Linked DNA regions of Homo sapiens: region 2 is linked to region 1. A link means that fine-mapping ties the variant in region 1 to the expression of a gene that starts in the linked region. Tissue or cell type: whole blood. Region 1 holds a variant in brackets; the other region holds the start of a gene. All regions are shown on one strand. Distances are between the middles of the regions.

Region 1 (5,151 bases):
GTAAGGTATACGCTGATTCAGCCCAGAAAGGTGGGACAACTTGAAGTGGGGCAGAGGGGTTACAGGTCATAAATGGATTCAAAGATTTTCTGATTGGCAATTGGTTGAAAGAGTTAAGTTATCATCTCAAGACCTGGAATCAATAGAAAGGAATGTCTGGGATAAGATAAGTTGTTGTGGAGACTAAGGTTCTTTTTTTTTTTTTTTTTTTTTTTGAGACAGAGTCTTGCTCTGTTGCCCAGGCTGGAGTGCAGTGGCGTGATTGCGATCTCGGCTCACTGCAACCTCTGCCTCCCAGGTTCAAGCAATTCTCCTGCCTCAGCCTCTTGAGTAGCTGGGATTACAGGCACCCGCCACCAATGTCTGGCTAATTTTTTATATTTTTAGTAGAGATGGGGTTTTGCCATTTTGGCCAGGCTGGTCTCGAACTCCTGACCTCAAGTGATCTGCCTGCCTTGGCCTCCAAAAGTGTTGGGATTACAAACGTAAGCCACCACACCCGTTTAGATTTTTTTTGAGATACCACTGAAACAGTGTCATTGCCTGGGGTAAATACCCGAGATTCGCTGTCTCACAGCCACAGAAAACTAGGACATGGACCACCAGAGTAAGATTAAGAGGGGAAGTTTAATAGGTGAAAGAAAGAGAAGAGCTCTCTGCACAGAGAGGGGTTCTGGAGAAAATAGGTTGCCACTTTGGCAGTGAAATGCAGAAGGTTTTATAGATGAGATTGAGGAGGCTGTGTCTGATTTACATAGGACACGAAAGATTGGTCGGACCAGGTGTGCCATTTGCATAGCACATGATGAACTGGTTAGGACTAAGTGTGCCGTTTGCATAGCGCGCAAAGAAGCTGGCTGCCCCACCCAGCTTCATTATGCAGATGGGTTGTCTACCTGGCCAGTGCCATGTTGCCTGCTTTTTTTTTTTTAACCGCACATGTGGTAACAAACAAAAGGGAAGATGGAGCCTCCAGGTTGAACATACCTGGCTTCCAGGTAGCCCTTTTCTATTGGCACAGCTGCCAGCATTCACCCATGCAAGCTTCCAGCTTGCTTATCTATGTCTGCAGCTCAATTTTTCAGGCTGCTCTTTGTTTAGAAAAGAAATGATTTTGGGGCTGCTTTTTGTTAAAGAGGAATTCCACCAAGGACTCTGTTGCTCTTACTATCTGCCTAAATAATTTCTTTCTATCTTCTGTATCATCACCAGTGTGTTTTGAGAGGCTCTTGCCTGTGTGAATTCAGCAAGCCCTGCAGAGGTCTGGAGCCGACAATTCCAGTTAGCAGCAACAGCAGCAGCTTTTTGATTCCCCACCTGCCTGTGATGGTGGAGACAGCAGCTCCTCTGATGGGTCACTTTCGCAGCTTCAGATCATCGTGGGGTACTAATGGAGTCAGAGTCCTTTCTCTTTTCCATCATAGAACAGTCAGATGTCTTTCCCAGGGATGGATCTGTCCCCTTCGCCTTCTGAGAAATTGAATTAGGCCAGGTGCAGGGGCTCACACCTGTAATCCTAGTGCTTTGGGAGGCCAAGGTGGGAGGATTGCTTGAGGCCAGGAGTTCCTGACCAGCCTGGGCAACATAGTGAGACTCCATCTATTTTTTTAAAAAGTTAGCTAGGCAGTTAGCTAGTGCCTGTAGTTCCAGCTACCAGGAGGCTGAGGTGGGAGGATTGCTTTAGCCCATGAGTTCCGGGCTGCCGTGAGTTACGGTTCCTGTCACTGCACTCCAGTCCCAGCCATTCCCAGGAGACAGAGTGAGACCCTGTCTTTAAAAAAATAAAAAAAGTAAAAAACAACAAAAAAAAGAATTTAAGTTAATTCAATCTTCAATCAAATCAGAAGCACATGAATGTCCTAACACCAGACTGACCCCTGAAATATCTTAGGAAACACAAGTGCAATAGTATTCCAAATGAAAGCAATTTTCTCATCTTGCTGTTTTCAGCCACCATCCATATATCAGCATGAAGGAAAATATTCATTTAAATGAGACAAGACT[G/A]TTACATTATCTATATGTTTTAATAAAAATTTCTAGCAGAGTCCTGGGTGGTCTTTTTAGCTCTATGAGGGTAGGGGAAGGGAGAATGGCCAATGAAAACTCATAATTCTTTGTACTTTTTAGGAAAAAGGAGTGTCATTACCAGGAATAACAAATTAGAAATGAAGACAATCAGCCCAGCTTTGGGAAGTTAGAGGTGGCTCTTGCAGGATGCAGCAAGAGCAGTCTCTGAAGTCTGGGTGTCTTATAGGACTCCTTTGTGAGAACCACATTTACAAGGAAGGTTTTATGAGGGAAAGAGTGTCTGCTTTTCTATAGTTGCAGAAGAGAGAATGATTTTCTCCTTTTTATGCTGCTGAGATTTTTATTTCCAGGAGTTACAACAGCCCAGAGTTTCAAGGCAAAATCTTGCAATCACATTTTTTGGTATTGAGAGGAGAACAAAGCAGCAGCTCTAATACGGTAAAAATGTGACAACATGGGAAAGAAATAGGAGTAACAGGATTACTAATAAATAGAAGATGATGCATGCAGCGTTTTGCATCCCCAAGATGAATAAACAAAGTAGGAAAGAAAAGTGCCAACTTCGGTTGTGCTGTGCTAGGACGCCTGAGAATCTGGGCCAGTCATTTGGACTCAAGAATCTGTCACTTTCAGCTGTATCTCATTCAAAGGTTAATGGTGACATTAGGTTTTCCCATATCTTGGAATAATATCCACATCTGCCCAGTTGTCTCTTGAAGAGTGGCATTTGGAAAATTCTTGACTTCTTGCAAAGCTGAGACGTCTACAATGGTGACAACTTGCAGTCTTTAAGTTTTAATTGAGTTTCCCCTCTGCCTCTTGGTGTCGACCCCACATTTACAAACATTTTCAGGGACATTCCTCCTTGCCTCCTGTGTTCCTGTTCCTCATCCCATCCTATGCTTAACTGAGCCGGGGCTGTGTTTAGACGAGAAAACCAGCCCCTCAAACATGACTTTGGATGCTTTTGGCCATACAAAGTGGATAACTCAATTCAAAGTGGTTTAAAACACTGACGTGTATTATCTTATGTAGCAGGGATTCCAATGAAAGGGCAGTTCCTCGGTTGGTTAATACAATGGCTCAGTAATAACACCAAAGATCCAGGTTCTTCATCTTCCTACCCCAGCCTCAACAGGTTGTCCTCTCATGGTGACTTCCCTCCCAGTCCAAGATGGTGGCCAGCCGCATCCAGAGACACAAAAGGGGAATTGCTGCTCCTAGTTCTCTTCAAGATCCAATAAAATCTCTCCCATCAGCCCCCAGCAGACTTCTTCTCACTAGGCATTGGCCAGAACAAGGTCCCATGCCCATTCTTCTTTCCCTTTTCTCCAACTGTCCAAAGAATACCCAACGGTTTCTGCTCCCAACTCCCAATTCTCACTCATCTAGAGAGCTGGTCAGGACCCTAACAGGTATGCCTGAGAGAATAGTTATGTGCTACCTGGGCCAGGTTGCCCTCTGCTCTTCTCCTAGACTGTCCGCCATTTGCCACCAAATTCTTCCTGTTGCTTGTCTACAATGACCCTGTCATTTGGGCTGTAACAAGAGTAATCTATCTTGTGTGAATGATATATAGAAGCTATTGTTATTGTTCTATCTCATCCTGCTCCACCTTGCCCTGCCCTTCTCTGGAAGTGGATACAGCGGGGGATACCCCACTCAATCTAGTTCTTACATCCCCTTCTCATCCCAGGTGGCTGTGGACCAGAATCAGGACCAGTGCCTTGCCCACCTTGGTGGGAGCCATTTATTGTGCTCTGTGTGAATGGTGTCCCCTGGTCGTGGAGGTGTGTATTTTGGGTGAGGACAATGGTAAGATAAGGGCTCGTCTAGATGGGGGTGCAAGACTGGATCCTTCATCTCTGGGTTGGGGAGGTGAAGAAGATCGGAACTCACCCCATTTACAGTTCCTGAAGATCACCAGGTAAACACTCCCTCTGGCTGCCACACAGGAAGAGTGGATTGTTGATTCACATTGGCTCCCAGCTGGGCAGGGCAGGGACCTTGTCCTGGCTGGGGCTAGGATTCTTATCAAGAGTTTCTTCTGGCTGGGCTCCAAAAGGCGATTAATGGCTGCTTGGCCTTGGGCCTGTTCCCCAGGTTGCCATCTGCTCCAGGTTAGTGACATCCACTGGCCCACTGTGGATAGTTTTTGGTGGAATCAGTTCTCCAAATGTCTGTCAGGAAACTTTTCAGTTTAGAGACCCTCAGGGGCTGAAGGTTTAGGATGCCCACCATCTCTACAGAAGGAAGAAGGTTTTGGAAGAGACGCTTCTGATGTCCACATCCTCTATGTCCTTGGTAATACATACCCTGATTTTTAAATGGATGCATGGGAGTCCAGCAAAAAATATATTCTCTAGGTTCCCTGGAGCTAAGTGTGGCCATGTGGCTGACTTTTGGCCAATAGATAGAAGTAGAAGTGTTATATGAGGCTACTAGGAGCTGGCCTTAAAGATAGCTTTTGTTCCTAATCCTTTCACTACTGAACAGAATGTGGATATGATGGCTGGAGCTCTGGCAGCCATCTTGGACCCCAAGTTATGTACTGAAGATGACAGGCCAGTAATAATTGAAGGAGGCTGTGTCCCCAGGATTATGAAACTGCCACATTTGCCCTGAACTCTCTACCTCCAGACTCCATTTATGTCAAAGAGAAACTTCCATCTTGTTGAGGCCATTTGATTTTGGGGTTTTCTGTTACTTGCAGCTGAAGCTAGTCTTGACAAAATGCTCTCTCTGGGAGGAGGAATGCAGGATGCATCCTGTCAGGGCAGGTGTAGCTCTTAAGGTTCTTTTGGGTCTATATGGCAGGAGTCCAACTTGAGGCAGTTTACACACAAAGGGAAATTTGTTATAAATGAGTTCCAAGACAGGAGAGCACAGAGACACCCAGAACCAGAGGTTCCAATCCCCTCAGGGACCTCTCTCTCTCATTGTCCCTCTCTCTCTCAAAGTGCCTCCCAAAGTGCTGGGATTACAGGCATGAGCCACCACACCCAACCTCTATTTTTAATTTTTTGAGGAGCCACCATACTGTCTTCTACAACAGCCATACTAGGTTGCGTTCCCACCAACAGCACACAAGGTTTCCTTGTTTGCTGCTCCACATCCTTGCCA
Region 2 (5,151 bases), 71 kb before region 1:
ATGGCAAGGGGCCACAGCACCTCCCTCCCTCAATCACCTTCTTCTGGTCTCTCCTCTAAGGTCACTTCTTGAGTGAGGTCTCCCTGATGACCTCCTTTCCCATGTCACATCATTCTGGTTCGTATTCTTTACTCAGCAAGTCATAACCACTGCGTGCCTCCATTTTTCAATCTGTAAAATGGAGACAATAATGGCGCTGGCCTCATGGAGTTGTTTTAAGGTAAAAATGAGTAAATATAGAGTAATGGTTCTCAACCAGGGGTGATTCTTATCCCAGGGTGGAGACATTTGGTAATATCTGAAGACATTTTTGGTTGGCATGACTAGGAAGCTGCTACTGGTACCTAGTGAGTAGAGGCCGGGGTGCTGCTGAAATCTCTGCAATGCACAAACCCTCTACTAGTAAGAACTGGCCAATACAAAACATCAGTAGTGCTGAAGCTGAGAAACTATGCTTTAGGGAAAATGTTTAAGATGGTGCCTGGCTCTTAACGATCACCCAAGAAATGCCAGCTGTCATTATTGCCCACCACCCTTTCCCTCACACTTTGCCCCGAGTGGATTCATCAGTAAATACTCGCTTTATAAACATAAAGATTGAGGGATGCATTCCTCACAACCAGGCATACAGTAAGTGCTCGATAAAAATTTGGTTAATGTTAGTGCATGTGAAAGGTAAATGAGATGGTGCATTCTCCAGTGTCAGGCACAAGGCGGGCATTTCATAGATATTTTATTAGTTAATGCATGTGAGGGTTAAAGACTATCTCTGGGGATTGGTACACAGTAGATGCTCAATATGTGTCAAGTGAATAAATGAGAGGACCAAATGAAATGGTGTTTGCACAGCACCTGGTGCATGGTAGCTGCTCAGGGCTCATTAGCTTCCTCACCTCATCCCCAGACCCTAACACTTACCAGCTACCTGGACCTCAGTCTTGGCCTTCATAGTCCATTCAGAGTTGATGGTAATGGCTACTTGGTAGGTGCCACTGTCTGTAGGCTGGGCGCGGCGCAGCAGCATGGAACCATTGGGGAAGCCCACGATGTCTCGCTGTCCCATGGCACTGCCATCCCTCTGAGGCCGTTGTATCCCAGGGATGTAGGTAAATAGCCTCGTGCCTCCGTACGTCTCCTCCCCCAGGTACCAGTTGAAGTCCTGGAAGGTGTCTGGGACACCCTGGACTGACAGGAGAAGGTCCTGGTTCTTTTGAGGCTGCTCTGGAATCTTCTGGATGTAGAGAGCTGCCTGGGAGCCTTGGAGCATCCAGAGGACCAGGATTGAGGCTGTGGGAAGTTACAGGGAAGGGCTGAGATCAGGGGTGTTGCCAGGGACCATGGCATGCTCCTCTCTAGATACAGATCTTCAGCGGGGAGCAAGGACTCTGAGTGCTGCTCATTGGAAACAATGCTGGGATTGATTAGTGATGTCTGCCCTGGGTGCAGGAGTGGGAACACAGGCATGGTTACCACAGATTTGCCATCCTGTTGATCCAGAGGTTTTTCTACCTTGAGATGCTGTGTGGCCTGCTTCTAAACACATGGACTCTCTGAATTCATTCATTCATTCATTTATTCAACCAATACTTATAGGCATATGTAATATATAAGCTATAATACCAACTATATGTAATACATCTAAACTTCCTTCAATTTCTAGACACTGGAGATATAGCAGGGAACCAAACATACATAAATTCCTGCCTTCATGGTCCTAACATTATAGAAAATTCCATAGATAAAATGGCAATGAGGCTGTGATTCTGTTGCCCCTCCCCCATCTTATTCTAATTTCATCCTCTCAGGTAATCTTTCCCTACTTCTAAGAGGAAACTTCAATCTCTGGGCTGAGTCCCCATTTCTCCCCTTGGCCTTTAGGGTCTATTTCCTCCTTACCTGAGAGCAGGAGGCTCTTTGAGAAGCAGCCCTGGGTCCCCATGGGAATCTCCATCTTGGCGTCTTGTGGAAATGCCAAGGGGCCACGAGCTGGACACTAAGGGGGCCAGAGGGGTGGGCCCTGGCTGTCTGAAGTAGGCCAGCTCAGTGGGGATCCCAGGGGTGCCTTAGAGACACCGCTGGGGCTGGCCCAGCCCCAGCATGCCCTGTCCATGGGCTCTGGAGGCTCCACCTATACTCCCTGGGATGGGAGCACAGACAGAGGTTGAACCAGTTTTTCAGGGTGACTGGGGAACTTCCCAGGACTCCTCCCCTGACCCTCTTCAACCTCTTTTTCTCACTCAGCGTGACTACAACAGCAGTCACTGTAGCAATAGTCATAACAGCCTCTGTTTGAACAATTCCCCTGGGTTTGTTCAAACACACACTGCCTCATTCAGCAGCCACCATAAATAACTGTTCCCATTGCACAGATGTGGAAACAGAGGCCCAGGAAAAGAGGCAAGTCTGCCAATAGACAGAGGTGGGATTTCACCTGTGGCTGACTCACTTGAAGGCTCTGAGGCAGGCTGGGTGCGGTGGCTCACGCCTGTAATCCCAGCATTTTGGGAGGCCAAGGTGGGTAGATCACGAGGTGAGGAATTTGAGACCAGCCTGGCCAACATGGTGAAACCCTGTCTCTACTAAAAATACAAAAGTTAGTCAGGCGTGGTGGTGGGCACCTGTAATCCCAGCAACTGGAGAGGCTGAGGCAGGAGAATCACTTGAACTTGGGAGGCAGGGGTTGCAGGGAGCCGAGATCGCGCCACTGCATTCCAGCCTGGGTGACAGAGCGAGACTTCGTCTCAAAAAAAAAAAAAAGCTCTTAGCCTCGTGTTTTTCTTTTTTTTTCTTTTGAGATGGAGTTTCGCTCTTGTTGCCCAGGCTGGAGTGCAATGGCGCAATCTCAGTTCACCGCAACCTCTGCCACCTGGGTTCAAGCGATCCTCCCACCTCAGGGAGTAGCTGGAAATGCAGGCATGCGCCACCACGCCCGGCTACTTTTGTAGTTTTAGTAGAGACAGGGTTTCTCCATGTTGGTCAGGCTGGTCTTGAACTCCTGACCTCAGGTGATCTGCCCACCTTGGCCTCCCAAAGTGCTGGGATTACAGGTGTGAGCCACCGCGCTCAGCCTGTTTTTTTTTTTTTTTTTTTTTTTTTTTTTTCTTGAGACAGGGTCTTGCTCTGTCTTTCCATTCATGAACATTGGTTGTCTTACCATTTAAATATGTCACCTATAATTGCAAGAATATTTTGTAGTTTTTGGATTGGTTTCTTTTTTAGATGCTGTGTCACCCAGGCTGGAGTACAGTGGCACAATCTCAGTTTACTGCAACCTCCGCCTCCCAGGTTCAAGTGATTCTTCTGCCTCAGCCTTCTGAGTAGCTGGGATTACAGGCATGCGTCACCATGCCTGGCTAATTTTTGTATTTTTAGTAGAGATGGGGTTTTGCCATGTTGGCCAGGCTGGTCTCAAACTCCTGACCTCAGATGATCCTCCTGCCTCGGCCTCCCAAAGTACTAGGAGTATAGGCATGAGCCACTGCACCCAGCCCCAGAGTGTATGTTTTGTACTTTTTTGGATCATGTTTATTCCAAGTGTGTTATTCTTTTTTTTTTTTTTTAAGACAGGGTCTCGCTCTGTTGCCCAGGCTGGAGTATAGTTGCATGATCATTGCTCACTGCAGCCTCCAACTCCTGGGCTCAAGCAATCCTCCCGTCTCAGCCTCCTGAGTAGCTGGGACCACAGTTGTGTGCTACCATCCCTGGTCAATTTTTATATGTTTTGTAGAGATGGGATCTCACTATGTTGCCCCAGGCTGGTGTTGAACTCCTGGGCTCAAGTGATCCTCCCACCTTAGCCTCCCAAAGTACTGGGATTACAGATGTGACTCACCATACCTGGCTTAGCCTAGTTTTTAAAAAGCATCCTCCATTCATTCCAGCACACATTCCCAGTGCCCAGTTGTGTGTGCTGGGTGATGTTGGTGACACAGTGATGATTGAGACCACCTCTGCTCTGCCCTCTGTCCACAGTAGGGCACACAATCCTGTAGGGTTTGGGGGGGCAGACCCCTCTCACACAATTATGATCCAGAGTGATCAGGGCTGGGATGGAGGAGCCCAGGAGTCTGGGAGAGCCCAAGGAGACACACCTCATTCAACCTGACGGCTAGGGAGGGCTTCCTGGGGGAGGGGGCATCTGAGCTGAGACCTGGAGTAAGAGTAGAAATGAGGCAGATGATGGGGTGAGGCAGCATGAGGTGCACCAGGCAGCATAAATAGCAATGCAAGGATGTGGAGGCTGAGATAGTCATCAAGGTGTATTGAGGAGGTTGCAATATCTTGGGTGAGTGGAGCCAGGAAGGAGGGTGTGGGGCCTGTGTGTGTGAGGCTGGGAGGTAGGAGAGATCAAATGTGCTCTGTTGGTTGGATCAACAGAGCTTGGATAATGGAGGGTCTAGTGTTATGCTGTTTAATATCATAGCTATTAGTCATATGTGGCTATTTAAATATAAATTTAGGGAGGCACAGGTGACCCACACTTGTAATCCTACCCCTCTGAGAGGCTGAGGTGGGAAGATTGCTTGAGCCTAGGAATTGGAGACCAGGCTGGGCAACATAGTAGGACCCCAACTTTACACAAAACAAATTTAAAAAATTAGGTAGGCTTGGTGGCTTTCAACTATAGTTCCAGTTACTCAGAAGGCTGAGGCAGGAGGATTGTTGAACCTGGGAGGTCAAGGCTGCAGTGAACTTTGATCATGACACTGCACTCCAGCCTGGGTGACAGAGTGAGACCATGTCTCAAAAAAATATACTGAATAGGCCAGGCGTGGTGGCTCATGCCTGTAGTCCTAGCACTTTGGGAGGCAGAGGCAGGCAGATCACTTGAGGTCAGGAGTTCAAGACCAGCCCGGGCAACATGATGAAACCCTGTCTCTACTAAAAATGCAAACATTAGCTGGCCGTGGTGGCGCATGCCTGTAATCCCAGCTACTCGGGAGGCTGAGGCAGGAGAATCACTTGAACCTGGGAGGTGGAGGTTATAGTGAGCCAAGATTGTGCCACTGCACTCCGGCCTGGGCAACAGAGCAAGACTCCATCTCCAAAAAAAAAAACTGAATATATATATATTATTTTATATATAATATATATTATATATAATTATATATTATATTATATATATTATATTATATTATATTATATATTATA

Evidence for each region. PIP is the estimated chance that this variant, and not a neighbour inherited with it, causes the effect.
Region 2: CEACAM19 starts here. The variant in region 1 is fine-mapped to the expression of CEACAM19 in whole blood (GTEx, PIP 0.94).

The regions. Positions count from the first base shown.
Region 1 is chr19:44,597,966-44,603,116 of GRCh38, reverse strand. No RefSeq gene overlaps it. Among named protein-coding and RNA genes, the nearest start is that of IGSF23, 13 kb to the left of the region's middle. The variant G/A (reference allele first, on the strand shown) is at 2,005.
Region 2 is chr19:44,668,732-44,673,882 of GRCh38, reverse strand. It overlaps CEACAM19 (CEA cell adhesion molecule 19), which reads right to left and starts at 2,401. Exons shown (of 8, transcript NM_001127893.3): 1 at 1,897-2,401; 2 at 919-1,287. The coding sequence starts at 1,951.